Homo sapiens: one gene and its partners. The protein of the gene in region 2 purifies or fractionates together with the protein of the main gene of each other region. This does not show direct contact. Each region holds a gene or a part of one and is shown on either strand. Other genes may lie near its edges.

Region 1 (4,694 bases), on a different chromosome or scaffold from region 2:
CACAAAAGGCAGACCTCTTTTTAAAACTGCACAATACACAAATGGGTACTTAATCATTTCATCTTCCTTTTCAAAATTCTCTCCCTTACCTAACTTCCTCTCTCACCCTTATCCCAAGTGAAGACCCCCAACTTGCCCTCTATATGCCTAAAAAACACCTCTTACTTAGCTTTGACCTCTAGCACTCCCATTCCCCATAACCCAACTAGGTATGAATCAGATTATGTGATTAAATTACTTCACATTAATGGGTAAATGAGGCTTAATCCACAAAGGTCAATTCCACACGTCATTAAACTCTACTATGTATAAGGCACTAAGTTTAATCAATTAATATACCTATCCTTCTTACAAGAAAAACTAACACAAATCAATCTTTTAATGAACAATGTAAGGAAGGGGCACAAGAGTGTTTGCTTCACATCACACTTTCTCCACCCAGTTCTTTCCATCCTGTTGCCAAACCCCTCCAATCTCCATCTGGCATGGAATAAAATCCAAGGGATCAGTATTTCTTCCAGTAAGTCAATGCCTAGGAAGACAATGTGGGATAGCACAGCAAACAATAAACATTCAAATCCTGAAATGGACTGTAGAGGGTCTCTTGTATTTAATTTTATATATTAGCTGCAAATACAATAAAGAGCTTCTAAATAATTCAATTTCTGTACAAGATACCTATAAATCAGCTTTGCTCAGAACTCTGAGTTTTTAAACCATAAATACTGAGATGCTTTTTCTTCAGTTATTTCCACAGTTAAAACGTTTATAGTAAATACCAGTTCAAATTGCCCTACTATAACTATACTTAAAGGCTATTAAACTTAACTACTGTTTTCAATTAGATGTGACATTTTTCCCAAGACCCCTTAAGTTTGAAACTCCAAACTTGCTTTAAACCTCCTTTTTTTCCAGTCATAAAATTTATTAATTTTGATTTATAACAGAGCTTCTAAACTGGAGAGGAGAATACAACTATGGACAGGTTTGGATTTGATTCAGTCACATGATATTTTTAATGGTTTTAATTAGTTGTCAATATTTTTAAGACGCAAGACACTGAATGCAAAAATCTAGATTTCCGAGTTCTCTTGAGAATGCTGAAGATGGGGTCCATATTCTTATATAGCACTGATTAGGGGGACCTGAGACTTGGATGTCTCTCTGATAAGGCATAGTGCATTTCCCTCATTTTCATTATCTAACTAGTACCCGAAGGCATGTGAGTTTGTTGCTCATGCTATGGCTTTGAAAGGTGCACAATATTTTCCATATCACTTCCATACTTCCCTAAGTCACCTATTATAAAAAGCCAAAAGCAGACCACAGTGGTTTGCAACTCCATAGTTAATAATTTAAAAAATTCACATGGCTTAGAGGGAGTGAGAAAGAAGAAAATTCAGACTGGTGGAAGGGTAACATAATTACATAGGGTTAGAAGTCTATCTGAAAGCTTTTCTGGGAGTGAGAAAAAAGGTGAACGAACACAAAAACATTGTTGAAACACTAAAAGCTTTCCTGATTGAACACTGTTACTCTCTGGTGGTTCCTTACCACATTCCATGCTTCAGAAACTTCCTTCCTACTTTGTATGTATTAATATAATAGCTGTTAGGTCATACACGCTGAGAAATATTGGGAAAATTTATAAAACACATTTACATCATCAGAAATAATTCTTCTCACACTTTTTTTTTTTTTTTTTTTACCAGTCTTGGTCCACTTTCAAATCCCTTCCCAAGTATTTTCTACTGCTTTCCGCTTTATATTCAAATGACAACTGCAGTCCTGGGTTTCAGGACTGAACTTCAATCCTGGACAGGCTCTCTAATACAGAAACTCTTTTGGCCGTTATGGCTGCATTCTTTATTATATCTCTTATTCCGATTTCCACAGTCTCTTTCATTGAAAATTTATCCCTAACCCCCTCTCTAAAAGATTTTGATCAAATTTGTGTAGTTGGGGGGTTGGGAGGATAGGGGCGGGAAGGAACTCAGTTGTCCAAATACAATTAATATCCTGTGCTGTTTCATTTAGATTGCTAATTTAAATAAAAAGCATGAAAACTCTGCAAGATAATAAATCTTCGTAAAATAATCTTGTTTACTAAGTGCACAAAGCCACAAGCAAGTGAAGCTCTATCTTTCAGCATGTCTGGACTAGTGACTTTTCATCATGGACTCAGAATACTGAGAAAGGAGAAGCAGGAAATCTGTGAGGCCCAGGGACAGTCACACTGGCCCACACTAACAAATTACTAACCGATGTCTCACCTTCCCCCGCCCCATTCCCAAAGATAAGGGTGTCAGGGCACCTGCATCTGAAGAAGAAAGACATCAGAACCTTTTCCGTGCAAGTTTTAAGAAAACAAAGCTTTACCACACGTAAAATGGTTACAACATAAAACCACGCAGCACGTTAGTGGGGTCTCACTCCTCTTCACCCAGAGGGAGGCTGCCCACCACCTTATCCCCTATTGTGATGCGCCTTCCTCAGGATGTCGCTGCGTTCGTCTGAGATGACAGGAAAGGGGCGGGGCACGGGGTTCCTCTGCCCTGGAAAGGGATGAGGGTATCGCCTTCATCCCCGGAGAAAGGCCCCCGGACTCCCAACCCAAAAGCAGCAGCCGCAAAACTCAAGTCTTATCCCGGCCTCTCCTAATTGGGTGCTCGTGGCCGGAGCCCAAAACGCCACCCACGGTACCCGAGCAGGGTCCGGCCGCCCAGACCACCGCCGCAGCAGCCTGGCTCTCACGCCCAGATTCGCCCTCCGCCCCTTTCCTCTTTCGCCCCGGCCAAGCCCAGCCTCCCGCGCCGCCCCCGCCGAGTTCCCCAGCTGAGTCCACTCACTCTCGAACCTGTAGTCCCCCTTCAGTGCCCACACAAGATTGGGGCAAAGGCCGGGGCCAGTGACACCTCCACTTCCTCCTCAGCCAGATCCCTCCGGAGGTGGCTGTGGAGGAAGCCACTGAGGCGGCTGCGCGTAGCGGAGCCGCCCCGGCAGGTTGCAGGCCGGCTCCTCAGCCTCTTACCGCGAGAGCTCACAATGCGAAGAGGCGAGGCCAGCAGCGTTCTCGCGAGAACGGTGCTCTCCGCCCAGGGGTGGGCGGGGCACCGAAGGAGAAGGCAGTTGAGGGCGCGGCGGCCACGGGTGGGATCTCAGGCGCGTGGAGAGGAAGGCGCCGCGCGACCTCTCCTCACAGACATCAGCTCGGGTCAACCGCGGGCCTCGAGCCCGAGTGGCTGAGGGCTGTTACCTTCAAACCTTTGAATCCCACGTTTTCCCCTTGACTTCCTGTCACCGTTAGAGAAAAGTGGACAGCGTCTCGGTCACAGAGTTGGAGAAATAGTGCAGGGACTCTTCAGGGAGAGCGTTTTCCTCATCAAAGCAAACTGCAAAATCGCTTCTGCCGGCGTGGACCTGATGAGAGTCGGTCGTCGTGAGGGACACCCTCTGTTCCCTAACGTCCCCCGCTGCTTATTTTTAAACGCTCGGTTGGCGGGAACCCCTGTGCCAGCTGAAACTCCTTCAGTTTGGCCGCCTAGGAAACACCGAGAGTCACCTACATGGGCTGGCTGGGCAATAAAAACGGGAAAAAATGTAAAAGACACAGTCTCCGCCTTCGAAGCTTACACCCCCGGGGCAAGACCTACAGGAAAATAGATAATCCCATTATTCTCTGATAAAAGCCGAGCTGCTTGCCATGAGCTCTGGGAGCAGACGGGGAGGCCTTGTTGAGAAAGCCTTCACCTGGGAGTGACAATTGCGCTGAATCTTAAGCATAAGTAAGTTCTCCAGTTTAGGGAAGAGAGGGAAGGGCATTGCAAGGAGAGGAAGCAAAGAGGAAGAGGACCTGGTTTGAGTAATTGGGTATGAAAACAGATATTGCAGCAAGAACTTTGTTGAAAAACCTTTAACCACTGTTTAGTTCGGATGAGAACATTCCCAGGCTCCTACGTGTGATACGCAAAGTATTTTCCAAATCAGTGTTTATGCTAAGAAGATGAGCAGTTGAGCTGGACAATTATAAGATAACTTCATCTTTCTCCTGTAAGGACACTTAAATATCAGAAACCTAAGAGAAACGGGTTATTGTCGTAATTCACTAAGTTATTATAGCCAACATTTTGCTAAATTGGAAATTGCCAATAATTTCAAGTTGTCTACATAAGAGCAATCTAATAGGAATTTTGTGATACAGTTTCTCAGAGAAACTCTGAGAAAATTCTCAGGCAAAAAACAAAAACGTCATCAGTCCTGATTTATTATCAAAATTTTCTCCTATAAGCTCTGCTCAGAAGAAGTCATTCTGTAGTCCAAGTTAGGGCTAATGAGGAGCCATACTCTTACATCAAAATAGAAGCTGTCCTTTTCTAAAGAAAGACTCTGGTATTTTGCTGTAGTTTCCACTCACCTTCCTTTGGACACATTATTTTCATATTACATATAAAAATATGTATACTATATGAAAAATACTATGTATACTATAGTTTTATTTGGCTTACCATACTCTCCCTACGAATAAGCCCAACACTTAGGAGGAAAACAAAAAAGTTATTCTAACCCTGCTGATACGGTTTGGATCTATGTCCCCACCTGACCTCTCATGTGGAATTGTAATCCCCAGTGTTGGAGGTCGTTGGATCATGGGGGCAGATTTCCCTGTTTTTGCCATTCTGGTGATAGTGAGTTCT
Region 2 (4,106 bases):
ACTTTTTTAAAATTTAGAAAGAAATGCCATTGAGTTATGAGTCACAAAATACACACATCACACCAACAGGCAATTATAATAACTTGCTTTATACAATTACAAAATATTTTAAGGTCTATAATATCAGTTGGTAAATTGGATAAACTTTCACTTAAGAGACTACAATGCATGGCTGCCTTCCCTCCTTCCCAGTGTTCAAACCTAGAATGTTCACACCCGGAAACTTTCTCCTTACTTTCCTACACTTACAATACAATCAACTTCTAGTCTGTTTCACCCTTTTCCCAAGACATTTTTAAAAGCTAGGTGGGCCTGGTAGCTCACAACCATAATCCCACCACTTTGGGAGGCCGAGGTGGGTGGACTGCTTGAGCCCAGGACTTTTAAGACCAGCCTGGGCAACATAGGGAGACCCTGTCTCTACAAAAAATTTTTTAAAAAAACTAGCCAGGTGTGGTGGTATACCCCTGTGGTGTGAGATACTCGGAAGGCTGAGGTGGGAGGATCACCTGAGCCCAGAAAATCAAGGCTGTGGTGAGATGTGATTGCACCACTGCACTATAGCCTGGGCAACAAAGCAAGACCCTGTCTCCAATAAACAAACAAAAAAAACCAGGAAAGGAAAAAAAGCTTTTCACCCAGGCTGAGTGTGTCTACAAATACAGCAGAGAACTAACATGCAGAATCTATCTGAGCAAACAGGAAACAATGGTTGCAGACAAACAAACAAAAAAAACCTCTCTCCATATGTTTGCTAACATTCTGGGAAGAGAAGAGCTGCCTTATGAATTGACGTCACCGAACTACTCAATGCTATATGCATGAACACAGATGGTTGCAACTAGTTTCTGCTTCTTACCAACAAGCAGCACATATCATTCATGTGACATTTCATATTCTAATCTCAATCATGGTGGATACAAATTACTATTTATTTGTAATTCTTTTGGTTTTACTATTTGTTTCACTTTAGAAATTTCCTTCTGCTTCAACCTTTGTTAAGACATTACTTTAAAAAATCTCTGTAAGCTGGGCTAAAAGCTGACTAAAAATCAACCCACTATGCCTAAACAAGTTAAACAAGGAACACAGGGAGAGGCATGCATTATCTTTAGTTTACACAGATAATTGTTCAGGCCGATATTCTTTAAGACACAACAAAATCTCCCAGGGGCTTGTGTTGAGGAAGAGACATTAAAACTCTTAACTGCAGAAAGGCTTTAAGGCTTAAGAATGTAAAAGGTAATAGTAAGTCAGTCAAGCTATAATGCACATACTTACTTATCATCAGCAAGGCTTGCAACATGCAGTCCATCATGGCTAAAAGATACAGATCGTACCCACCGGTCATTTGCTCCTCCAGCAAATATTGGAGTAGGTGGGGGAAACAGGTGCCTGAGGTCAAATATATGTTTTCAGTGGATATCAGTCACTTCAAGAAAACAAAATTACCCAGGTACAAAGTACATCTGTCTTTGAATAGTGTTTAAAGTAGCCTTAATTAATATAACTGAGAAGACTCAGTAGAGATGATACATCCAAATTAAAGTCACCTGAAAAGAACTAATCTTTTATGGTCGGGCGCAGTGGCTCATGCCTGTAATCCCAGCACTTTGGGAGGTTAAGGCAGGTGGATCACGAGATCAAGAGATTGAGACCAGCCTGACCAACATGGTGAAACCCCATCTCTACTAAAAATACAAAAATTAGCCAGGGGTGGTTGCAGGTGCCTGTAAGCCCAGCTACTCAGGAGGCTGAGGCAGGAGAACTGCTTGAACCCAGGAGGTGGAGGTTGCAGTGAGCTGAGATTGCGCCACTGCACTCCAGCCTGGCGACAGAGCAAGACTCTGTCAAAAAAAAAAAAAATCTTTTATGATTTAAGACAGTAAGATTAAGTCCAACTTTGGTTTTAACTGTTTTTCTCCAACAAAAACTCTAAACATAATTAGTACTTCTATAGAGAGCTGGGTACTGTTAAGTAGCAAGACTTGTATCAAGAGAGCCAAATTTACTTTTAGAATTTATATCGAAGGCTTTCCATTAGTCAAGGGCTTAAATAATACCAACATTTTAAATTAGAATAGACTGTAATTTTAGGTTGCATATATTGGTGATTGTAATTATTCACATAACTTGATAGGTGGAGATGAATTATAGACTAAAATAATTCATGCTGTACCCACCCAAATTCCATCAGAATGTCTCCATTATGTGGATCCCAGATATATACTCGAGTATCATAAGATGCAGTAGCCAGTAATGCTCCATCAGGAGAAAAGTCACAAGCTACCACATCATGGTGATGTCCTTCTAGTTTCCGTATCATGGTGTATTTATCCATATTCCAAAGGAAAACCTGCAATAAAAAGGCAAATGTTATAGCTTCATTCAGACATACAGAGGACAAAATGGCACATCTTATACTAAAACTGCTAAATTTAATTAAGATTATATTAAGCATTATAAATTATGAGTAATTTAAAGAATATGCTCAGTGTCATAGTCAGATTAAAATCAGTCTTTAAGTTAATTAAGGCAGACATGCAAATTCTATTTCAAATGTTTCTGTTAAATGTTAATTTAAAAATAAGCCTAAACATAAAATAAAGGCAATGCAATTTAACCACAAAGCTATACTGAAATCCATTTATTCCAAAAACTAATTAACTAAAATATACGGAAATAAATAGGGTTAAGTACTACAAACCCCCTTCTCTTTTTTTTCCAGAAACTACCAGATTTTTAAAAAAATATACAGACAGAAAACGTAAGGTTAACAAATTGTTACTCCATTGGCATCTCCCTTTGAGATAATCACTTGTTTACAATAGGCTTGGGTCACCAACTTGAGCCTAGGAAGAGAAACAGATACTGCAAGCAAATAGAATATTCACAGCCAAATGAAATTTCTTTGGCAAACAACAAGGATGTTAAACCACATTACAAAATGAAAATGCTATTTTATGAAAATAATACAATTACATTTCAATAAATCAAAATTTAACCATCTTATTTTTCCCAAACTAACCACGATCATAAGTCATTTGAATATAAAACGGTTCAATTATTTAAGAATAAGTTCATATACAATTTTAGATTCTAAAGATCAGTAGTTAACTGTGCAGAATAGCTCTAAACAGGATTCTAATGTTTACTTCAGTCTGTTATATTAAATGTGAGCTTGGAGGTTTATCCTAAGACAATCTCTCCTCTTGGAGTAAAGCAATCCTTTTTGGTTTTTTTTTTTTCTGCACAGACACAATACATTATTTCTAAAAGAAAATAAGTACAAATTTTAAATTGAATCAAAGACGTAAGATATCTCTGGAATCTGAAAGAATTCCAAAAAATAGCACAGAGAAACCATTTGAAAGCCAAATACTTTACATTAAATTGGTTTCACTTGTCAGACTCCCAATTCCATAAAACTGGAAAATCAATTTACTCAGGAGTCAGTGTATTTTACTGTGGGGGAAATTACTTTAAAAAAGAAAAAAAGAAAGAAAGAAAAGCAGAAAGTGGACATCGACCAGCACCTGTGTACGTACAGTACACCTTGCAGCCGAATGCAAGGTTACTTCATCCTATGGTAAAGGTCGCCCCCAGCCCGGTAGCCAGAGATGCCACTCTTTCTGCCCAGCTAACACCATTGTGCGCCTGTGTGCGAGTGGTGCCAGCATAACCTCAATCACACCAATATTGCTGCCACCACCTGTGACAGGGAAAGCAAGAAGCATATGGAAAACACACAGCCTAAAATAGCAATGTCAACATCTAATTTTGTTCTTCTTATGATTTGTAAAGAACTAAACTGAGTATCTTGCTTTAAACTTCCAACATTTATAACTATCATTTTAACATACTCCTTGGGTAAATAAAATGCATTTCAACTAGCCTCCCACCCTCCATTAATTCAAAGTGTATTGTAATTATCACATGTATTTGGACTTCAACCATTTTATAAATACTTGAAGCTACTGAGATCAATTTAACTATACTAACAGAGCTGGTAAACAACTACAAGAGTTCATCAATAAGCATAACCCTCTTAACAGTCACTTTACTTAAGCTGTCTATAGGTATGCTATGTAAGACAAACAATATCA
Region 3 (3,327 bases), on a different chromosome or scaffold from region 2:
GACATTCCTGCACCCCCAGTTTTCTACAGAAGTAGCAGATAAATCAGACTGAAAGAGTGATGTGAACAGGGTTGTGACTATCCCTGAGCAGGATGGCTATCACTCATGATGATGATCATTGGTCCAACAGTCACCCTGGCTGAGGGATAGTCACTATCCTGCTTCCTACCACCTGGACAGCTTGGCATGGTGTGAGATCCTAGAACTGTGGCCCAACTTTGTGTGGAAAGTAGCAGGGCAGGGAAAGGGGACTCCAAGAAGGACTGGGGTTAAATTTCCACTAAGCCAGTAGGATGGCATCCTCAAATAGAAATTAATTTGTTCTGAGCATAAAGTGACATTTCTTATGCACCTGAATTTATGGTCATGATTCATGTTAGCAAGCTTCTTTGCAATTTATAGCCAGAGGTTTGTTTGCTTCAATACTGAATTTAGAACTTATTTTTCCAAAAGAAAATTTAGATGCCTAGTAATAATCACGAGGAGAGAATTTAGGTCACTTTAATAATAATAAATAGGGGGAGGGTGGGAAGCAGGAGAGCATTCGGAAAAAGAACTAGAGCATGCTGGGCTTAATACCTAGGTGATGGGTTGATAGGTGCAGCAAAGCACCATGGCATGCTTTTACCTATATAACAAACCTGCACACCCTGCACATGTGCCCTGGAACTTAGAAAATAAAATGAAATAAATGATAACAATAGTTTCAATACCATACTTTATTAGTATGCCCAGGTATAGCCCAAGCAGTAACAGAGACTCTAGAATTAGAGTTAAGTCCAGGAAAGAAGGAGATTCTGAGTGGCATAGATTTGTCTCAAGTGATGTAGTGGTGAGTGACAGAATTAACTACTAATAGGCAGCACTGAGTTCTTTCCTCTCCTTTCCATTTGATCTCTCTTCTCAGGCCATCTCTTTTCCCATTCACATTTTGCTGCATCTTCAGTATGAAAGTAGGTTGAAAAGAACTGTAATTTTCACAATTACTGGTCATTTTATTTATGTTTCTAATTCAATGTATTATTCATTTTCCTCTTCAAAGGAATCACATTTTATTTTGGAAATGTATGTGTAAAAAACATGGAAACTTGTGGAAACCCACTCTTGAACTTCCCTGGACATGATTCAGAGACTGATTGAGGAAAGGGCTGATTGTCTGGCTTTAGAGGATGTTTGTGGTGCGGCAATGGGAAGCTGGGAAAATTGGCCTCAGGAAGTGGCAGCACCTCACCTTTTCTTAGAGGAGGGAGTCGGTACACAGATCCAATTTGTCTGCAATGGAAGGGACGGGGTCCTTTACCTGGGCCTCGCCTTCTTAAGTGCCCAGGTGGTGGGCCGTGGCCATGGCAACAGTGACCTTGGTTATGGGGTGGTGGGTCACAAGGTCCATAGTCTTGGAAATCATGGCAGTGGGGATGGTGTCCATGGGGATGGTGTCCATGGGGGTGGTGTCCATGAGGATGGTGTCCATGGGGGTGGTGTCCATGGGGATGCTGTCTATGGGTATCATGTTCATGAGGATGGTGTGCATGGGGATGGTGTCCGTGGGGATGCTGTTCATGGGAATGATGCTTATGGGGATGGAGGTCACTGGAATTATTATTATGAGAATGTCTTTGGGCCCCATTTGTGCCAAAAGTGGCATGTTGACAACTTGAGCAGGACATGGGCAATAGTGGAGGAGGGCCTTGTGGAAGTGGGGGTCCATGTGAGTGATCTCTTTCATCTGGAGGAGGTGGGGGTCCATGTTCGTGTGGCTTGTGGGGATGATGATGATCTCTAGATCCATGGGGCTTGAATGGAGGCTTGGTGGTAGAAGAACGCTCATGCCCACCCCAGTGGAAGGGATGTCCCAAATGAGGCGGTACACCATTGATGTTCTCATGTTCCTGGAAAAGGTCACAGAAAAGTGCCTATCATCATGTAACATAAAAGAAGATGTTAGATACTTGACTTGATTTACACCAATGGCTCCCAGATCATAGATTCCACAAATCAATTTAAAAAGTATTACGAAAAAAGATTCTCAAATTGTTATCTAGCCCAGTTGATATTTAAAATATTAACAATAACTATCATTTACCACCATCATTGTTTCACAAAAGAAACTATTTTTTTTTTCTGAGACTGAGTCTCGCTCTGTCACCCAGTCTGGAGTGCAGTGGTGCGATCTCTGCTCATTGCAACATCCACCTCTCAGGTTCAAGCAATTCTCCTGCCTCAGCCTCCCAAGTAGCTGGGACTACACGCCCAAGCCACCATGCCCACCTAATTTTTTTTTTTCTTTTTTTGAGACATAGTCTTACTCTGTTGCCCAGACTCCTAATTTTTGTATTTTTAGTAGAGACAGGTTTCACCATGTTGAACTCCTTGTTTCAAGTAATCCACCCATCTCAGCTTCCCAAAGTGCTGGGATTACAGGCATGAGCCACCATGCCCAGCCTGGAATGAAATTTTGATTTAAAAAAAAAAGAAAGAGCCAGAAACACAATATCAGAGTAAAGGATTGTCCTTTAGATGGATAAATGTTAGATATAAAAAACTTCATTATCCTTATTTTTTTTTCATTTTTACTACACAGAGTGGTGAAACAATATTATGACCTGGCACCCATCTGTAGACCAACACTGGAAAACTAGTGCCTTATAACTGATATTCTTAACTGAGGCTTGATGGTATCAACATCCCTTACTCCTAAAGGCTGAACACTTGACCTCTTCTCTCTCTTCCTTGTTCAGAGTTTAATTTTTTAAAAAATAGCTACAGAGGCCGGGCACGGTGGCTCATGTCTGTAATCCCAGAACTTTGGGAGGCTGAGGCAGGTGGATCACCTAAGGTCAGGAGTTTGAGACCAACCTGACCAACATGGAGAAACCCCTTCTCTACTAAAAATGCAAAATTAGCCAGGTATGGTGGCGCATGCCTGTAATCCTAGCTACTCAGGAGGCTGAGGCAGGAGAATCGCTTGAACCCAGGAGGCAGAGGTTGTGGTGAGCCGAGATGGCACCATTGTATTCCAGCCTGGGCAATAAGAGCAAAACTCCTTCTCAAAAAAAAAAAAAAAAAAAAAGACAGAGCCATGTTCATGGTGACAATCCTGCCCTTTGTTCCTTTTTCTTTTTTTTAACTTGGGATTGGATGTTTGGATTATTTTAAGTTTTGTTTCTGATATGAAAAATTTCGTGAAGCAAATCTTTGTACTCATGTAAAAAATAGACCAAAGATTTCTGAGACAGATGCAAAATATGGTTTTGCATCTTATTTTATATACATTTACATAATAAATTTGAGGCTGATATATTCCTCTTAGATTCTATGCCCAATAAT
Region 4 (4,844 bases), on a different chromosome or scaffold from region 2:
GCACACAGCTAATAAGTGGCAGAGCCTATGTTCATATTCAGGTCTTTGGATTCCAAAACCTACATCCCCTCTTCCCGTCAAACCATGTTATCAACACAGTGAACAAGTAGTTTGTGCAAAAGCAGTCTGGTAGATGAGATCCAATAATGAAAAGGCTTTTGACTTTGAGTCCCTCATAAGCTGATAGGAGATATGGGCATTTAACTCCAGTTTCAATACATAGCTGCTTCAGTGATGATATAAAATGTCCTAGTAACAAAAACAGGATGCCCTTAACACTGTTGGGGACAGGGTGTGTCAGTAAAGGCTGCAAGAAATAAATGCTGTTTAAGCTGAGTCTTGCGACATGAGTAGGTAGTTAGGAAAACAAGACAGAGTGATGGAGAAACTCTGCAAACCAAGGGAACGATTGGGCAAAAGCATCGAAAGAGTGTGACATGAAAGAGACCTACGTGCATGTACTCACATAAGTAAGCTAGAGCTCTTGGGGAGAAAGCAGGCAACAGAAAAAGTCATCATCTGGGAGCTGAAAACTACAAACAAAGACCAACCCAGTAATTTCAAGTTTTGGCCTGCTTAACAGTATGATGGGAAGTTCTACCCTTGCCGTTTTGACATTAGGGAAACTAACACTCTTCCTCCAAGGGGCAAGTCTTCCTCAGTCCCCTGAACAATTAGAGGTCTAAAGGCACAGTTCCTTTCTGTATCTTTCTGATTTTAATTTCCAACAGAGCTTTTAGATGCAGAAGATTATTACATGTTGTCAGATGAGACAATGTGTTAAAAGACACGTGTGTCTATCTTTAGGATTGGGGCTGTGGCATCAAAGTAAGCAAGTATTTTTTCCCCATTCAAAGGAACAGAAGACTTGCCCTGGGTGCCAGGCAAATCCTTGATGTTAAATTCCTGTCCCTGGCAGCAAGGGACCCGCCCTATCCTCTGCCTGACACATTTTGCTTCTTTACTCCCTTTTTGCTTGACACACCTGCCTCTCCCCAATCAAGTAAACATGATTTCTCCTTCTTTCAACCCCAATAGGGTGCTGCTTGGTTCATGTTTTGCCTTTAGTTTTGTGTCTGTTTTTGTCTTTTCCTCATTGTTAGATTTCAGTCCAGCTTGCTTTACATGTGGGGCACTATATTTTGTAGTGTAGAGCTGACATATAGTAGATACTCAATACTCAGTTTGATAAAACTCCTTGGCTTTTTTACCCTTCTCCCTTTCATATTTTAGAACAAAGCTCATAGACCCCTTAGTTGACACTATATTTGCTATAACACAGCCATTAAATTTTCTAGAATTCTTTTTTATTTGTTTTATTCAAATGGCTTCTCATGATTGGGCTTTCCTCTTGCTTGCTCTATCTGCCCACTTTGGAAATTGCTTTGTCAGCTCCACCGACTTTCTAAGCTGGGCCCAATCCCTAAATGGCCACAAGTATAAGGTCGCCTTTGGAGTTGAATAGTCTGAAGAGACATCAGTGCAAATCAAGGGCATAGGCATTGGAATCAGATTATCTTGTCTGGAATTATGCAGTCAAGGCTGTGTGACGTTGAGCACATTACCAAACCTCTCTGGGCTTTTTTTTAACCCAACTGTAAGGTAAAAATAATACCTACCTTATTGTTTGTTCGCTGCCTTGCAAGCCTTTCAAGGAGGTGAGACAGGGATGAAGCCCTTTCTCAGACTCAACATTTTAGTCATCTGCCCTCTAATCCTTTCCTTTTGCTTATTTGTCAAACTTGTACCTCCTTTAGGTGAGGACAAATACTTATATGTTGGCCATTTTATCCTCTCTACTCTATGACTTAGTGTAAAAAATCTCTCTCTCTTAGTCCTTACAATCATGAGACAATGAACTCCATTCTCATGACCATGTTTTAATGGGAGGAGGGTGGTAGAAGGAGGACACTTGCTTCCCTTTTGTGAGGTTTTTAAATTATATATTTATTATAACCTGTTCAAGAGTGGGTGAGAACAGTGTGGATTTTAAAAGGAACATTTCTGTGTCAGCAAAATGTCCCTGTGTTTGGGAGAGACTTTTGGAGGATTTCCAGGGGAAGCAAAGTAGTATTTACTGACAGTCCAAATGCAGTTTGGGCCTCTAACCTCTGGCCTCTCTCAATTTGTTTTGCAGTAAAAAGTCAGAGTACACAGCAAGGGTTCCAAATTAAGAGGAAGCAAAACGCTGCCCAGATCCTGAGAAACCTGGAGAAAATCAACCTTAGTAGTTTCAACTCATACATTGTCTTGTTTGATTTTGTTCTTTGTTTTTTATCCTCTTTAAGCACAGATGCGTGTTGAAGTCTAAGGTGTTCTGTCATCACACTCTCTTTACTAGAATAAGTGTGCCCAGGCAGAAAAAAAAGTGTATTCAATGTTGCTGGCATGTGTGGATTCACAGCTCGTGGCTGTAAGGAAATCTGGGGGTTTCATAAATCCATTAAAATCCTTTTAGAGTTGCCAACCCGCAGTAGGATTTTCTTTCTTTTTTTGTTCTTTTTTTCCCCTTCCAAGTGAGGCACATAAAGGATTCTACCTAGTCCATGAATGAACAGTTTCATAGAAACATTAAAACCCTAACATAACATGAATTATTCACAAAGTTGCATGAAACAATAATATTTAGGTTATCCAAATTATAAGAAGCCTGAAGGTTACCACCAAACTATTAAATTTTTCTAGGCATTAATTACATAACTAAACAAATGTATTTCTTAAAATTCTCTCTTCCTCTACATACACACAGTAACATCAAAAACAACAAGAGCAACTAAACCTCAATGAGTAGCTACAATGCAGAAAGAGTCCATTTCAATTCAAAGAAAAATATTTTCTCCTAAAAAATATGAGAAAACATTCTGTAGGTTCAAATGAATTTAGCCTTGGCTGAGATCACGAGCCACAAAAGTAAGTGGATATGTGACTATAATTATACAATGTTGGAAAATGGTGAGAGGACTTTAAAATATGCATTTCCTGGCCAGATTGTATCAGAAAACTGAACTAACTAGACAATAACACCTTACAAATTTTGAAGTCCAAAATTTTCAACTAAATTCCAGGAATTCAAAGAAAGACTTTTTTCCTTACCTGTCCCTTTGAGAAAGGAGCTCCAATAATCCCTATGGTTCTGGACTTGGCGCTCATGCTCTGACACTTCTCTTTGCTGCACTTGAGCTCTCCAGTCAGTCAACCCTCAGTGACAGAGGGCGCATCTTTTTTTTCCATTTATACTTGGGTTGAATAAACAACCTTTATCTAATGAGGACAGCTGGCTCCACCCACTAAACCAAAGAATGACAGTCAACAGTCTTGCAATTTTTCATACATGGAGTAACTATATGGTTACTCCATGTATGAAGTAACTATATGGGGTTACTTCATACATGGAGTAACCTAACTCTGAGTCTAGGTCTCTAATCAAGTGACAATTATTCATGTTCTCACTTCACACCCTTTTAAAAAGCCAGCCAGATGACATTAACCTGACTTCAACAACTGACAAGTTTCACAACTACAGAAGAAGTCCTATTGTTCTGGCTCAGCGAACTCAGGGCAAGGCCCTTTCCTCCTCCAGATCTCTGAAGACGTCCTTGTAGAAGAAGGGCCGGGCTTGGCAAGATCGTCTGTCACATCCCTTCCAGCCCTAAAATCCTGAGTTGAGATTTCACACATGAGGGTAAATGGTTAATCCATGAGACACATTTCATAAACTTTTAGGGTATAATATAATAAAGAGTATATAACTTCCTTTTTTGATGATTACTTTAAAAAATTAGTTACTTGATTGGTAACCCAGAGAGGTTACCATTTTTGAAGTATGGTGTACAGGAAAATAATTGTAGAATCATATCATAATCAAAGTATAGAAATAAAAATAGCTAACATTGAGTTTTTACCATGTGTCCGATGCAGTTCTGTTTCAAAATACCATATTTATATTTATACCAATTTTATGTGAAGTCTCATCATTGGTGCCATTATACTGATGAATAAACTGAAGCTCAGACCCGTTGCCAACATAGGCTGTAGAAGAAAAGTCGGGATTTAGTCTCTGCCATTCTGAATCCACTTAACCGTCGAGCTTATAGTCTAAATGCTGGGAAGGTGTCAACCTCTATGCCCCTGAGCTACCATTTGTCACCATACAAAAGTATGAATTTAAAATAAAGGCACCTTAAAGATCCTTCCGACTTTAAAATTATGTAATTGTAATTTAAAGGGAAAATTCACTTAGTAGAAACTAATTTCTTTTTCCTATTGGTGGGAAAGAACATTTTGGAATTTAAATTCCATGAGGTCAGAGAATTTTGTCTGCTGTATCCCCAGGGCCTAGAAGAGTGTTGGTGTATAATAGGCACTCAATAAATATTTATTGAATGGATAAATGAGGAAACCAAAGTCTCATGGGTCCATTTTGATAGGACTGTTTTCCAAATAGGTTTCCTACCTTTTTCTTGTGGGTTTGCTTGTATATCCTAAATATTTACTTGTGGTATTCCTCATATTGCCTAGATATTAACCTTATAGCATTGACATTGCAAATAACTTTTCCCAACCTGTCAGAAATCTGATAACTTTTTATATGTTATCACTCAAAATCCTCAATTTTAAAATAGACACTTGTATAATTTCCCCCGAATGCTTTGTGCTTTGGAAGTCTTATTAAATTCCTGCCACCCCATCAAATTGTAGGTATGTAGTTTTACATTTTCTTCCATTTGCCTTAGAGCTTATCTTTCTCACTTAGTTCCTGAATCCATCTTTGTATGTTATGTAAATTTTCCAACTCGTTTTTCCTCTATCATTCATGCATCAGTTTCCTCAACAACACCCATTGA
Region 5 (4,106 bases), on a different chromosome or scaffold from region 2:
ATATGGGCATTAGTAATAACCTTTAACAGTTTTTTAAAAAATGATTGATGCACTATGTGTATTTCAGATAGATGAGCCTTTCTGCAATGGAAATGGATCAAAAATTATAGAAAATTTTCTATAAAAAGTTAAAAATCAGTTCATATTATAGAAATGTGACTGACAAGCGATGTTGACAAAATATGCCAGAATATTAGGAAACTGCCACTTGCAAGTTTCTTCAGCAGATGGCGGCAGAGGACTGCATAGTACATCCAAATTGCTAAGTTTTCAAGCTGTGAAACAATGTTTGCCCCAAAACTTACTTGCTGTAATTTGGTGTTCATGAGGATCAGCAGGAGCACTGATTCACATCACCTTGCACTGACAGATTGCCTCATGTGTCCCATAGAGTCTAAGGAACAACAGTTTAATTCTATAGGTATTTTGTGAGATTCTTTCATGTTTTAGGTATTCATGACGATCTTTCTCTTTCAGCAGGCATTAACGATTTTATACCTGATTACCAGCCCTCCCCTATGACTGACTCAGGGCTTAGCTCAAGTTCTACCTCTTCTAGTATCAGCTTAGGAAATAACAGTGCTGCCATTTCACATCTGCACACCACTATCCTCAATGAGGTTGACATCTCAGTGGAGCAGGATGGAAAAGTCAAAACCCTCATGGAATTCATTACCTCAAGGTAACACTGGCAGCTCTTATCATCCCAGCAGTGTATGTGTTAAGTCATTCTTTCATTGATCAGGTATTATGAGCCATATTTTTGTTGTCTGAAATACCATTGATGTGAAATACACAGGTTTGTATTGCACAGTATTTTGAAAATTAGGATGCAATCAAAGACTCTTTTGTGCCAGTGCAGTTATACCTCAGGACTTTAATCATATCTGGCTATTTAATGGCCAAAGAGAATGAGTATTATCTGAATATATATTTCACTTTTATTAGCTACATTATCATTCAGTCATCAAATATTTATTTATGGTCTACTCTTTGCAAGACACAATAAGTAGAGAGGGAATATAGGTGGGGAGAAAGGGCATGGTATTCCATTGCAAGAACAAAATCACAGGAGCACAAGAAAACCATGTGTTTGGAAATGGTGAGGAATCCACTCTGACTGTAATGCAGAGAAAAGAGAGTTGTTCTAGACAATTATGGAAAGCTTGGGAGAGTTCAAACTGGCGGGCCATGAAGCCCAGGCCATAAGGTTGTAGATTATATTGAAAATCATTAAGCTGGGAGGAGGGTGGGAGGCATCATTTAATAAGTATGTGGAGAAAATCAGCCCCATAACAGCGTGTAGGATGCATTAGAGGTGGAAGGAACCAGAAGCAGTGCGTAGCAGGTTCTCAGGGCACTTTGGGCCTGTGTTAATAAAGAGCTTAACTGAGGTGGTGGCCAAGAACACAAAGACGTTTTGAAGAAAGAATCAAGAGGACATTACTCTGTCCTAAACTTTCCCTGTAGTTTTAGCTAGTAAATTATTCTCATTGCATTTCACCAGCAAATTATTTTCTTTGCATTACAATCTAAATACAGATTATATTTTGACCTGGAACACATAAGCAGTAACCAATATGCTTCACACTTGGCAAAATTTGGCATCTTTTTCTACTACGTCTGAGAGAATTTGACTGGTCTGTTGCTAGACACTGAAATGAGATCTTTCTCTCCTTGCTGTAGATCATTACATATTCATGTGCCTAAGTAGTAGTAGACTGTGACCTATTTATTCAACTACCATCCTTTCTAATTGTAAAGGTGTAATTTAGGCAAGTGTGAGTACAACTGTTAATCACAAGTGAAAATCCAAGGAAATTACATCTGTTCTCTGTTTTCAGAAAAAGAGGGCCCCTTTGGAACCATGAGGATGTTTCTGCCAAGAATCCTAGCATAAAGAGTGCTGAACAGTTAACTACATTTTTGAAACATGTGGTTTCTGTTTTTAAGCAGTCAAGCTCAGGTATCTTTTAAGAAATATTTTAGTTTTAGTGACATTTTAATGTGATGTCAATTTCTGATAATGCTTAGCAAAAAGTTAATAGTTGATATTGTGATACCTCTAAAAGTTTTAGACTTTTAATTTATTAATGATAACAGATCTGTTTTCACTGAAGAAAAATTAAGTTACTACTTAAAAATGAGTGCTATCTATGAAATGCTAGGCTCCTTAGTTTTGTGTTTGATGGCATCATAAAATTACAATACAATTGCGTATTATGAAAAAATACATTAAACGGACGTATATAGAAATTGGAAACTTAAAAAAAATTGTGCTGGTATAGTCTTCAGTAATCTAAAATTCAACACATTCTGAAAATCATAGTCAAATTGTATATGTCTAGAGCAGTGGTTCTCAACTAGGGGACATTTGGCAATGTCTAGAGACAGTGTCACCGTTATGGGTTGGGGGCAAGGGGTTACTACTGGTATCTGGTGGGTTGAGGCCAGAGACACTGCTAAACATCATACCCTGCTCAGGGCAGCCCTTCCAGCAAAGAATTTTCTGGCTTATAAGGTCAGTAGTGCCAAGGTTGAGAAACCCTGGTCTGAAGGATTGCTTCCGTAAAGATTAAAGGGTCATCTAAAATGCAAATGGAGTTTAAGCAAAGAAAAAGCATTGACTTATAAAATGTGAGAGCCAGGAAGTGTGCTAGCTGCTAGCTTTAAGATGATTCACTTCTGATTATAACCCCATTAGTATTCTAAAGAACAAGAACAACCTACTCGTTTCCTTTGCATTCACAGAAGGAATTCATCTGGAACATCATCTTAGTGAAGTTGCTCTGCAAACAGCACTTTCCTGTTCTTCTCGACACTATGCTGGGAGATCCTTTCAGATTTTCAGGGCCCTAAAGCAGCCTCTCACTGCAACTACACTTTCTGATGTTCTCTCCAGACTTGTAGAAACTGTAGGGGATCCAGGAGAAGATGCACAGGTATTTCCTTATATTCTTTCAGCAGTTATTGAGCAGCTACTAGTTGTCAAGGATTTATTGTCCATATAGATTGCTATAGCTAGAGCAAGATAATGGGCATCTAGAATTATAGTCAGATGTTGAGCAGGCAAAGAATTAAGAGACAAAGTTAGTTTTGTAATTAATATCAAATAACCTACTAATTAAATCAACTATTCTAGTGCCTATCAGAAAAAGCTTTACACTCGCCCACTCACACAACACCCCACCCCCAAGATCTTAACCTGGGATGATCACAAGGTAAAAAAGATAGGAAGTTAAATTTAAATGTAAAGTGGAGCATTGAATTTTATGCTTTAAGATAAATGAACTGTTGCACTAGAGAACTTCAGTTTGTACAGATGAATGACTTTATTAACGCTGTTATAAATATCAGGGATACAGTGATCAATGAGACAAAGTTCCTAACATTCTAGAGCTCATATTCTATTGAGGGAAACAAACCTTTAGTCTTCCAATTATACATAACATAATTTATCCTACTGATAATGCTGTGAATATAATAAGATAATAAGATTAAAGGAGAAGGAATTGTTTTACATATGATAATCCATCTGAGAAGGTGATTTTTGAAGAGATACTGAAATGAAGTAGGTTCTGTTTATGATCTGGGGAAGAATATTTCAGGCATAGGAAAATAGGACTAACAGGTGCAAAGGTCCTGAGGCAGAAGCAGTAGGGCTTTTCTGAGGAACATCAAGAAAATTGGTGTCGCTAGAATACATTGCAGGATGTGTTGCAGGAAATTGATGAGGTAGGTAGGTTCAAATCACGTAAGGCCTAGTAAGCCCTGGTAAGAGGCAGGACTTCACTCTGAATTGATGGGAAACTACTCAGACATTTTGAGGGAAGGAAGGTGATGGATGTGATTTCTTTTTTAAAAAACTCATTCTGACATTGGGGTGAAATCTGTAGGGAGGGCAAGAGTGGAGGCAAGAGAGGGCAGGAGGTTAAGAGTCCAGCTGAAATGGTGGTAGCTTAGATTAAGGGAAGTTATGGAGGTAGAGGAAAGTGGTCAGATTTTTAATGTGTATTTTAAAAGTGATATTTTCAGCCAGGCACTGTGGCTCACACCTATAATCCCAGCACTTTGGGAGGCTGAAACGGGTGGATCACCTGAGATCA
Region 6 (3,612 bases), on a different chromosome or scaffold from region 2:
AAAAGTTCTTTAAGCAACACAGAGCTGAGTCCTCTTTGTCATACCTTTGGATTTAGTGTTTCATCAGCTGTTTTTAGTTATAAACATTTTGTTAAAATAGATATTGGTTTAAATGATACAGTATTTTAGGTATGATTTAAGACTATGATTTACCTATACATTATATATATTTTATAAAGATACTAAACCAGCATACCCTTACTCTGCCAGAGTAGTGAAGCTAATTAAACACATTTGGTTTCTGAATAAATTGAACTAAATCCAAACTATTTCCTAAAATCACAGGACATTAAGGACCAATAGCATCTGTGCCAGAGATGTACTGTTATTAGCTGGGAAGACCAATTCTAACAGCAAATAACAGTCTGAGACTCCTCATACCTCAGTGGTTAGAAGCATGTCTCTCTTGAGCTACAGTAGAGGGGAAGGGATTGTTGTGTAGTCAAGTCACCATGCTGAATGTACACTGATTCCTTTATGATGACTGCTTAACTCCCCACTGCCTGTCCCAGAGAGGCTTTCCAATGTAGCTCAGTAATTCCTGTTACTTTACAGACAGGAAAGTTCCAGAAACTTTAAGAACAAACTCTGAAAGACCTATGAGCAAATGGTGCTGAATACTTTTTTTTTAAAGCCACATTTCATTGTCTTAGTCAAAGCAGGATTATTAAGTGATTATTTAAAATTCGTTTTTTTAAATTAGCAACTTCAAGTATAACAACTTTGAAACTGGAATAAGTGTTTATTTTCTATTAATAAAAATGAATTGTGACAAAAGTGGACTCTGGCTTCCCCTCCCCCCTCCCCCCCACCCCTCTGGGATAAAAATTTTCCAGCATTGCCAGGAGCTTTCAGGTACACATTAAAGAATAAAATGAAGTTAAGCAGCTGGAGTATAGGATAGTATTTGATTTTCAAGATCACCCAAAGCTGCACTATCGTCCCAAAGCTGACCAAGTAGAATAAAAAGAAAAAAAAAAAAAAACAACCCATGCGCAAAGATAGACATTTGCTTGATCTGCTGGCTCAGGGCCAAATGTTTAATTTGCTTCTCCAAAGTCATTCATCTTCAAAAGTCTGATTCTGGGAAACTGATGCCACTAGCCTAAAAGCCCACTGACCATGTAGTGTGCATCAGTTTCCTCTTGTCCAGTAAGCATTTATCCAACAGAAGCTAAGATAACATCTACAGGTGTTCTCTCTTTACTTCTGACAGTCACCTGCATGGTCACTCCATCGGCTAAGGCCAGCCTGGACCTCACCAATAAATCATAGCCACCTCTGAATATACCTGAGAGAAAAAAGTAAGGAAAACCATATTAAGAACCCAAAACAAGCACTGGATAATGAAATTTATCATGCTATCCCTGCATCTCCTTTCTATTAGTTTAGTTTAGCTTTTCCAGAGACTTGTGGAAACTGAATCCTAAACAAACATAAATTCCAAATATATATATTTTTATATTCCCATGAAACCAGGTACATAGAAGGTATTCAAAAATACCAATTTGGAGTACTCAAAAGGAATGTTGGTGGTGGCCTTGGTATCTGTTGGAGAGATTTGTTTTGGGCCAAATGTACATCTTAAAAGAATAACCAAGAATAGCATGCAAAACAAATTATTCATTTTGACTGGGTATCAAATTGTTACTCATATAATGGGATGATGGGACAACAGCAAGGCATAAGATGCCCATCTATATCCTATTATTAAGCTTTGCAAGAAAATGGAAGGAAAATCTGATGGAAGCTTCTTACCTGCCAGATAGAGCGAATGGGAATTCTTGTTCTCAGGTACTTTATCGGACCTCTCACATGGCTGCATGCCCAGAAATGTGATGATATTGTTGACAGCCTCTGTGTTGAGAAGATGTATGAGACAGTATTAGGAAAGTAAAGCACAGGGATCTCCCTCTGCACCAGTGTATGCTGGGAGCTGGGGTGGAAGGGTTTGTTGGTGAAGGGGGTTGTTGGTGATGTGTAGAGGGAGGCTACTACTGGACTAGAAAATGGCTGATCAATTAGATGATGAAGACAGGGTGCTGGCCTTTTAAGTAAGAGATTTATGAAGTTTTTTTTTTTTTAAAGGAGTTCTTCTGGAGTAACAAATATGCCTGTTAGGTGTTATACTGTTATCAGGCAATATACTGATAGCAAAATGGGTCTCACCTTCAAGGGTTTTGGTAGAACTGAGGGCAAAGGTTTCCTCTTTCTCAAAGGTATCTCCCACCTCTTCCCAAGCAGCAGCAAAGTTAGGCTTCAGTACTTTCTGAATATGGTCAGACACAGTCACTTCGAGATCTTCCAGCTAGTGGGTAATAAGCAGTCAGTAAAGAAAAGTCCTTTCTGTTATAGGGCAAAGATAAAGGAACTAGTCAATATGGTCCTCCGGAGCCTAGAGAAAACTCTACCACCAAAATAGTTTAAGTTCTGTAGTCTGGATAAATCTAATGTTGTAGCCCTTAGCAAAGGAAAGCAAGAAAACAGAACATCTGGCAAGAGCCTCAGATCAACATCTGTAGCCCTGAGGTACAGAGTAGTCATGTTGCACCCACACTTGACCACTGAGTTCTGGGCACACGGTACCCTCTGATCATTCACTAAGAGGTTGATATTTTTTAAAAAAAGTTTTCCCTCCATTCTGTGAAGGCTTTTTAATCCATGATCTGGCTATAAACTAACAGCTGCTGAAGCAAAAACAAAAAACCAAAAAACAAAACCAACCCCCTCCCCAAATCATTTTAAATAAAACTGATCTCAATGAAAATCATGTCATTATTTTCATCTCTTAATTATCCCTATTATAAAGAAAAAAAAGGGTGAGTTTGTTTTAATGATGAAGTGGTAAATCTCAATTCTCTCTGGCCTGGTGCTGTCCAGTTACAGAGGAGGGTTAGTCCAGGTCCTCCTAATTTGTCATCTGTTTCAGAAGAATAGAAATCCCTTAAGTTTATGTCAGATGCTCCTAGAAAAATGTTCTCTCAAGGCAGAAGTCACTTAGTGTTGTGAAGGTGTCAAAGAAAGTCTCTATGCTGGGAAGACTCACCACATACTCATCATCATACCCATCCTCATCTGGAACTCCAGTGTTAGGGTCACAGTCCCGGACTGTAAACTTCATGGTGCAGCTAAAGGAGCCTGCAACTGGAGGAGAAGGGAGGCAAACCTGCATCAGTGGGGAGTGCAAGGGAGACGTTTCCATCATTCCATCTGTACTCAGCACTGTGTTCCACATTTTCCAGTTAAACACACATGCCCTGTTGTCTGGGGTAGTGGTTCTCAAAAGCAGCCTACAAGCGGGTCAGGAAGGCAGTCTCACAAAGCATGAATGTAAAGTCTATTCCACGCTGTGGGTTACAGCAGTACAGAAATGATAACATGGGCAGACTGTTTCTCTATTGGTATGAAGAAAGCAGCAGAGAGGTACTTTTGGGGGCTTTTTGCCATGCCTATCAAAGGGGCCTAAATGTTGAAAAATAAATATTTTGAGAACCACTGCTGTAGGACCTGACCAAAAAAAAAAACAAAAAAAAAACCTGTGGTAAAAAGCATACAGATCATCAGATTAACATTGACCAATCTCATCAGCATCTCAATACTATCTTTAGATTG
Region 7 (4,618 bases), on a different chromosome or scaffold from region 2:
ATGACCCCAGACCTAAAGTTCTCTGAGATGGCCCCTCCACTAGGCATAGGCCCCTGAGCTGAACCCTTTAGGAAGGCAGACCCCTGACATAGCTTCCAAGATAAGGGTAGGCCCAGAAATGGTACCTGTGTTTATCATGGGGGTCCTGAAACGGTCCTTCCAGTAGTCACAGAGTAGATTCCTGAGATAGTCCCCTTAACGTGAGTATGCCTTTGACATAGCTTCCAATATATGAGAAGACCGCAGATACAGTCTCTCTGTTCTACATAAACATTCCTGAGATAGACCTTCCTCCCAGTCTCAGAGAACCTTGAGACAGCCCCTCTGACAGCCACAGAGGTCCCTGAAGTAGCCCTCATTATAAGTGGAGAATCCAGATAGCCCCTCTGCTAATCGTGGACCTGGGAGAGCCCTTCCCCACAAGTCACAGTGATTGCTGAGAAAGACCCTCCGCTGGCAAAAGATCCCTGAGATAGACCTTGGAGGATGGGACCCTGAGTTAAACTCAGTGAAATCAAGAAATTCAGATATAATTCCTTTTTTGGCTGGGCGTGGTGGCTCATGCCTGTAATACCAGCACTTTGGGAGGCCGAGGTGGGAGGATTGCTTGAGGCCAGGAGTTCAAGACTAGCCCAGGCAACACAGTGAGACTCCCATCTCTACAAAAAAATTTAAAAATTAGCCAGGCATGGTGGTGCATGCCCATGGTCTCAGCTACTTAAGAGGCTGAGGCAGGAGAGATCTCTTGAGCCCAGGAGGTAAAGGCTGCAGTGAGCTGTGATTGTGCCACTGCACTCTAGCCTCAACAACAAAGTGTGATCCTGTCTCCAAAATAATAATAATAATTATAATTGTTATGATTATTCCTTTTTTGATCAGGGAGATCTTGGGCTAACTCTTCCCTAGGTCACAGAAAGCTCAGACAGCCCTCTGACAATCATGAAGATATCAGGGTAGTCCCTTAAGAGTGTGCAAACACTACAGACAGCTCCTGTGATGTGGAGAAACCTGAGGTATAGACCCTCAACTGATCATGGGGAACTTTGAGATAGTCCTTCTACTCAACTCACAGAAAGCCCTGCCATTGGCCGGGCTCAGTCGCTCATGCCTGTAATCCCAGCACTTTAGGAGGCCGAGGCGGACGGATCACAAGGTCAAGAGATCGAGACCATCCTGGCCAACATGGTGAAACCCCGTCTCTACTAAAAATGCAAAAATTAGCTGGGCATGGTGGTATGAGCCTGTAGTCCCAGCTACTCGGGAGGCTGAGGCAGGAGAATCTTTTGAACCGAGGAGGTGGAGGTTGCAGTGAGCCGAGATCGTGCCAGTGCACTCTAGCCTAGTGACAGAGCAAGACTCCATCTCAAAAACAAACAAACAAACAAACAAAAAAGAAAGGACTGCCATTGCAGGACTATTGATCATGGAGAGCCCTGCCCTGGTGTGAAGAAACCCTTGAGGCAGACCTCCAGGTAGACTACATGACGCACAGGGATCCCAGAGCCAGCACCCAACTTGCAAAGAGAGTTGGAGAGCCTTTCTCGCAGACCTTGCTGCCAACAGGGATCTCTGATGCATCCTTCCTATATTTCTAGTGCAAGAAAATTCATAAGATAGCCCCTAGGGAACAGAAACTCCTGAGACAGCCTCCTTAGTGTGGGAAGAACTTCAAGGTCCATAACATAGGAAAGATGCCTTCTGATGTACAGAGATGCCTGAGATAACCCCCGGAGAAGAGAGGCTGGAGGCTGGAGATAGCCCCTTTAGGAGATCGTAGAAACACAATTACCTCAGTGAGGTACCCTGGAAGAAAACCACTCATGTGAAGAGACTCATGAAATAACCTACATGGAAACCCCTGATGTAGACCCCCCCACTAAGTATATGGCAAGACCTCTGAGATATTGACTTGGGAACAAATAGCTCAGATACTCCAGTGGAAGGAGAAGGTCACTGAGGTAGCCCTCAGGGAAGAGATACCCTAGAGACAGCATGTCTGGTGTGGAAGAGCTCTGAGAGGAGAGTCCAGAGATGTCTCTCTGAAACAGGAAGACTTTCTTCTTCTTCTTCTTCTTTTTTTTTTTTTTTTTTTTTTTTTTGAGACAGAGTCTCACTCTATTGCCCAGGCTGGAGTGCAGTGGCATGATCTCAGCTCACTGCAACCTCCACCTCCCAGATTCAAGTGATTCTCCTGTCTCACCCTTCTGAGTAGCTGGGATTACAGGCCCATGCCACCACGCCCAGCTAATTTTTGTATTTTTAGTACAGATGAGGTTTGCCATGTTGGCCAGGCTGGCCTCAAACTCCTGATCTCAGGTGATCTGCCCGCCTTAGCCTCCCAAAGTGCTGGGAATTACAGGCATGAGCCACAGCGCGCAGCCAATATGGGAAGACTTCCACAACACTTTGGTGTAAGCTGATTACTCAAAAGGCCCCTGAGATAACCCCTAATACCAGGTCACACCCAGCACAGCCTTACTTCTTGGCAATGTTGAGCATCTTCAGTTTCTTCCTCATGCGTGGCCGGGAGGTGGCGGAGACAGAGGTATCCACGAGGGAGGAGGTGGATTGTGACACCTGGGAGAATGAAGGCGGAGATGGGTGAATTGCTAATTCAGACCTTGGAGAAGAGGCAGACGGATCCAGGGGGTCTCCATCAAGGAAGGAGCGGTGGCGGACACTAAGAAGTGTAAATAGGGAAGGGGCGCGGCCTCTGTGTGGTCAGGGCGGACCCCAGGGGTCCCGGACTCACCTTCCGCATAATCTTCCGGCCATAGAAGAGCACTTTGTCCCTCTTCCGGAACCGATACCGGGGGCCATCCGGGGCTGGGGTTTCTGGGGATAGGTGGGGACAGGGGCACTCCGAGCTCTGTGCAGACTCCACCCTGCCAGAGCTGGGGTACCGCGAACAGACGCCAGCAAATCCCCATCTCTGCCGCCTCGGGACCCGGGCATTTGGGCCCCCCACCATACAGCCTCCCAAGAGGGGCCCCTCGGGTGCTCACTTGGCACTCGCAGCCTCCGCACCACCAGGAGGATGAGCACGGCCGTGACCACCACCGCCACTCCGGCCCCGATCATCACGCCAAGCACCTGAGGGACGAACGGCACTGGCTGCGCACCGCAAATCCGTCCCGCCGAGCCTTCCCCGGGCGCCAGGACGTCCTGGAACCCATCCCTCTCCGCCACCTTCGCCCCCGAGGAGTTCGTAGCCAGCCCGTGACTCGATGTCCCCATCTGCAGAATGGGCCAGTGCTGCTCCCTCCCCGGGGGCGCGACTCTTCCCTGAGGCCCGGCGGCCCGCAGTGCATGCCGGGAAACGTAGTTCCGCCCGAGCGGACGCAGCGCGTTATCGCCAGACCACGTAATGCGCGCTGAGCACGCCGGGAGTTGTAGTCCTCTTGGCGCCCCACGCCGGCACCTACCCGGTCTCCGCCCCACCCCTTACCATTCCAGTTTGCAGCGGAGCCTCCATCGGTTGATTCCAGCTGGACGGCCGATCTGGTAGCCCGGAGTCCTGGGAAATCAAGGAGTCGAAGGAACCCGTGCAAGTCGTCAATCTGGGCCCACCTCTCCCCTGCCTCAAGCCCTGCCCCCAGCTCAAGCCCTGCCCTCTGGGGTGGCGGGGGAAGCGTCTCCAGCTGCCAGGGGCGAGGCTAGAGGGGCGCTGCGGGACTAAGGGATGGAGCAAACCGACCTCTCGGCCCTGGCCAGGAGATGAGGCGGGTCCCCGGCTTCCTGCTCCCTTCGCCTACGCGTAGGGCCTACCAGACGCCCGCCTGTCCAACCCCACCCCGGGGCCAAAGGCCGACCTGGTACCCACTGTCAGCAGCCTGCAGGCAGGTCCCCACAGGGCACGGTCCTCTGCACCTGGTGACTTCCTCCCGGGTCACTGCCCTCTGCAGGGTTGATCAAGCCTGACCACCCCACCCCCCAGGCCGCACCCCCTACTCCGTCGAAGACTGAATGCCCCACCCCAGGAAAACGGGCCCGCAAACCGTGGGGTCCGGGAGTGGGCACCTAGATACTCGGCTCCCGACGCAAGCCTGCCCCGGGGAAGACCCAGGAGCTGGGAGGCACGGGAGTACTGCCGGGGCATCCGCGGAAGGCGTCTGATACCCACGTTTCAGAAGAGTCCTGGGATGCTTGGGGTGGCGTGGGCTTGCAAGGCGCTGCTGGTTTTTGCCGGGGATTTACTATCACGTAGTAGTGAAGTTATGGGGGCTCTATGGCACAGAGCATCACTGGGACTCCGGGACCGATGGTGGCGCCATTGCTGGGAGGCGTAACCAGAGACGCTGGGATTAGTGGGTGGGGATGCGGGGTCACTGGAAAGTTACTGAGATTCTGAGGATTACAATACTACTGCTGGGAAAACCAGGAGGTGGGTGGGCACATTCCTGGGGTGCTTATGAGAGCGGGCCTGGGGAGGGCGTCCGGGCTCCTTGGAAGATACTGAGAGATGCTGGAATATTACTGGGATTTTTCTGGGAAGCTGAGGATGTTTCTGACATCGCTAGAATATTAATGGAAATTCGGGGGCCGGGAGATAGGAATCCCGGAGACTCCGAGTCGTTACTTGGAAAATTCCTGGGTGGCCGGTCCTCTTCCACCTCAG

Evidence for each region.
Region 1: the proteins of WSB1 (region 2) and BTBD10 purify together in Homo sapiens (affinity purification with mass spectrometry, with the first as the bait; one large-scale study listed by BioGRID). This does not show direct contact.
Region 3: the proteins of WSB1 (region 2) and HRG purify together in Homo sapiens (affinity purification with mass spectrometry, with the first as the bait; one large-scale study listed by BioGRID). This does not show direct contact.
Region 4: the proteins of WSB1 (region 2) and ARG1 purify together in Homo sapiens (affinity purification with mass spectrometry, with the first as the bait; one large-scale study listed by BioGRID). This does not show direct contact.
Region 5: the proteins of WSB1 (region 2) and FRYL purify together in Homo sapiens (affinity purification with mass spectrometry, with the first as the bait; one large-scale study listed by BioGRID). This does not show direct contact.
Region 6: the proteins of WSB1 (region 2) and COPG2 purify together in Homo sapiens (affinity purification with mass spectrometry, with the first as the bait; one large-scale study listed by BioGRID). This does not show direct contact.
Region 7: the proteins of WSB1 (region 2) and PNPLA6 purify together in Homo sapiens (affinity purification with mass spectrometry, with the first as the bait; one large-scale study listed by BioGRID). This does not show direct contact.

What each region holds. Positions count from the first base shown.
Region 1 is NC_000011.10:13,460,243-13,464,936, forward strand, and holds the start of BTBD10 (BTB/POZ domain-containing protein 10), read right to left. Parts: upstream 2,981-4,694; 5' UTR 2,850-2,980; intron 2,748-2,849; exon of another isoform or gene 2,380-2,747; intron 1-2,379. UniProt on the Homo sapiens protein: Plays a major role as an activator of AKT family members by inhibiting PPP2CA-mediated dephosphorylation, thereby keeping AKTs activated. Plays a role in preventing motor neuronal death and accelerating the growth of pancreatic beta cells.
Region 2 is NC_000017.11:27,307,350-27,311,455, reverse strand, and holds part of WSB1 (WD repeat and SOCS box-containing protein 1), read right to left. Parts: intron 3,713-4,106; exon of another isoform or gene 2,357-3,712; coding exon 2,184-2,356; intron 1,396-2,183; coding exon 1,282-1,395; intron 1-1,281. UniProt on the Homo sapiens protein: Probable substrate-recognition component of a SCF-like ECS (Elongin-Cullin-SOCS-box protein) E3 ubiquitin ligase complex which mediates the ubiquitination and subsequent proteasomal degradation of target proteins.
Region 3 is NC_000003.12:186,675,609-186,678,935, reverse strand, and holds the end of HRG (histidine-rich glycoprotein precursor), read right to left. Parts: intron 1,914-3,327; coding exon of another isoform or gene 1,890-1,913; coding exon 1,053-1,889; 3' UTR 702-1,052; downstream 1-701. UniProt on the Homo sapiens protein: Plasma glycoprotein that binds a number of ligands such as heme, heparin, heparan sulfate, thrombospondin, plasminogen, and divalent metal ions. Binds heparin and heparin/glycosaminoglycans in a zinc-dependent manner.
Region 4 is NC_000006.12:131,571,589-131,576,432, reverse strand, and holds the start of ARG1 (arginase-1), read right to left. Parts: upstream 3,208-4,844; 5' UTR 3,151-3,207; coding exon 3,094-3,150; intron 2,468-3,093; exon of another isoform or gene 2,141-2,467; coding exon of another isoform or gene 2,138-2,140; intron 1-2,137. UniProt on the Homo sapiens protein: Key element of the urea cycle converting L-arginine to urea and L-ornithine, which is further metabolized into metabolites proline and polyamides that drive collagen synthesis and bioenergetic pathways critical for cell proliferation, respectively; the urea cycle takes place primarily in the liver and, to a lesser extent, in the kidneys.
Region 5 is NC_000004.12:48,542,643-48,546,748, reverse strand, and holds part of FRYL (protein furry homolog-like), read left to right. Parts: intron 1-477; coding exon 478-682; intron 683-1,844; coding exon 1,845-1,966; intron 1,967-2,751; coding exon 2,752-2,942; intron 2,943-4,106. UniProt on the Homo sapiens protein: Plays a key role in maintaining the integrity of polarized cell extensions during morphogenesis, regulates the actin cytoskeleton and plays a key role in patterning sensory neuron dendritic fields by promoting avoidance between homologous dendrites as well as by limiting dendritic branching.
Region 6 is NC_000007.14:130,505,516-130,509,127, forward strand, and holds the end of COPG2 (coatomer subunit gamma-2), read right to left. Parts: intron 3,145-3,612; coding exon 3,047-3,144; intron 2,309-3,046; coding exon 2,170-2,308; intron 1,858-2,169; coding exon 1,759-1,857; intron 1,292-1,758; coding exon 1,161-1,291; 3' UTR 723-1,160; downstream 1-722. UniProt on the Homo sapiens protein: The coatomer is a cytosolic protein complex that binds to dilysine motifs and reversibly associates with Golgi non-clathrin-coated vesicles, which further mediate biosynthetic protein transport from the ER, via the Golgi up to the trans Golgi network.
Region 7 is NC_000019.10:7,534,408-7,539,025, reverse strand, and holds the start of PNPLA6 (patatin-like phospholipase domain-containing protein 6), read right to left. Parts: upstream 3,310-4,618; 5' UTR 3,238-3,309; coding exon 3,006-3,237; intron 2,836-3,005; coding exon 2,753-2,835; intron 2,578-2,752; coding exon 2,480-2,577; intron 1-2,479. UniProt on the Homo sapiens protein: Phospholipase B that deacylates intracellular phosphatidylcholine (PtdCho), generating glycerophosphocholine (GroPtdCho). This deacylation occurs at both sn-2 and sn-1 positions of PtdCho.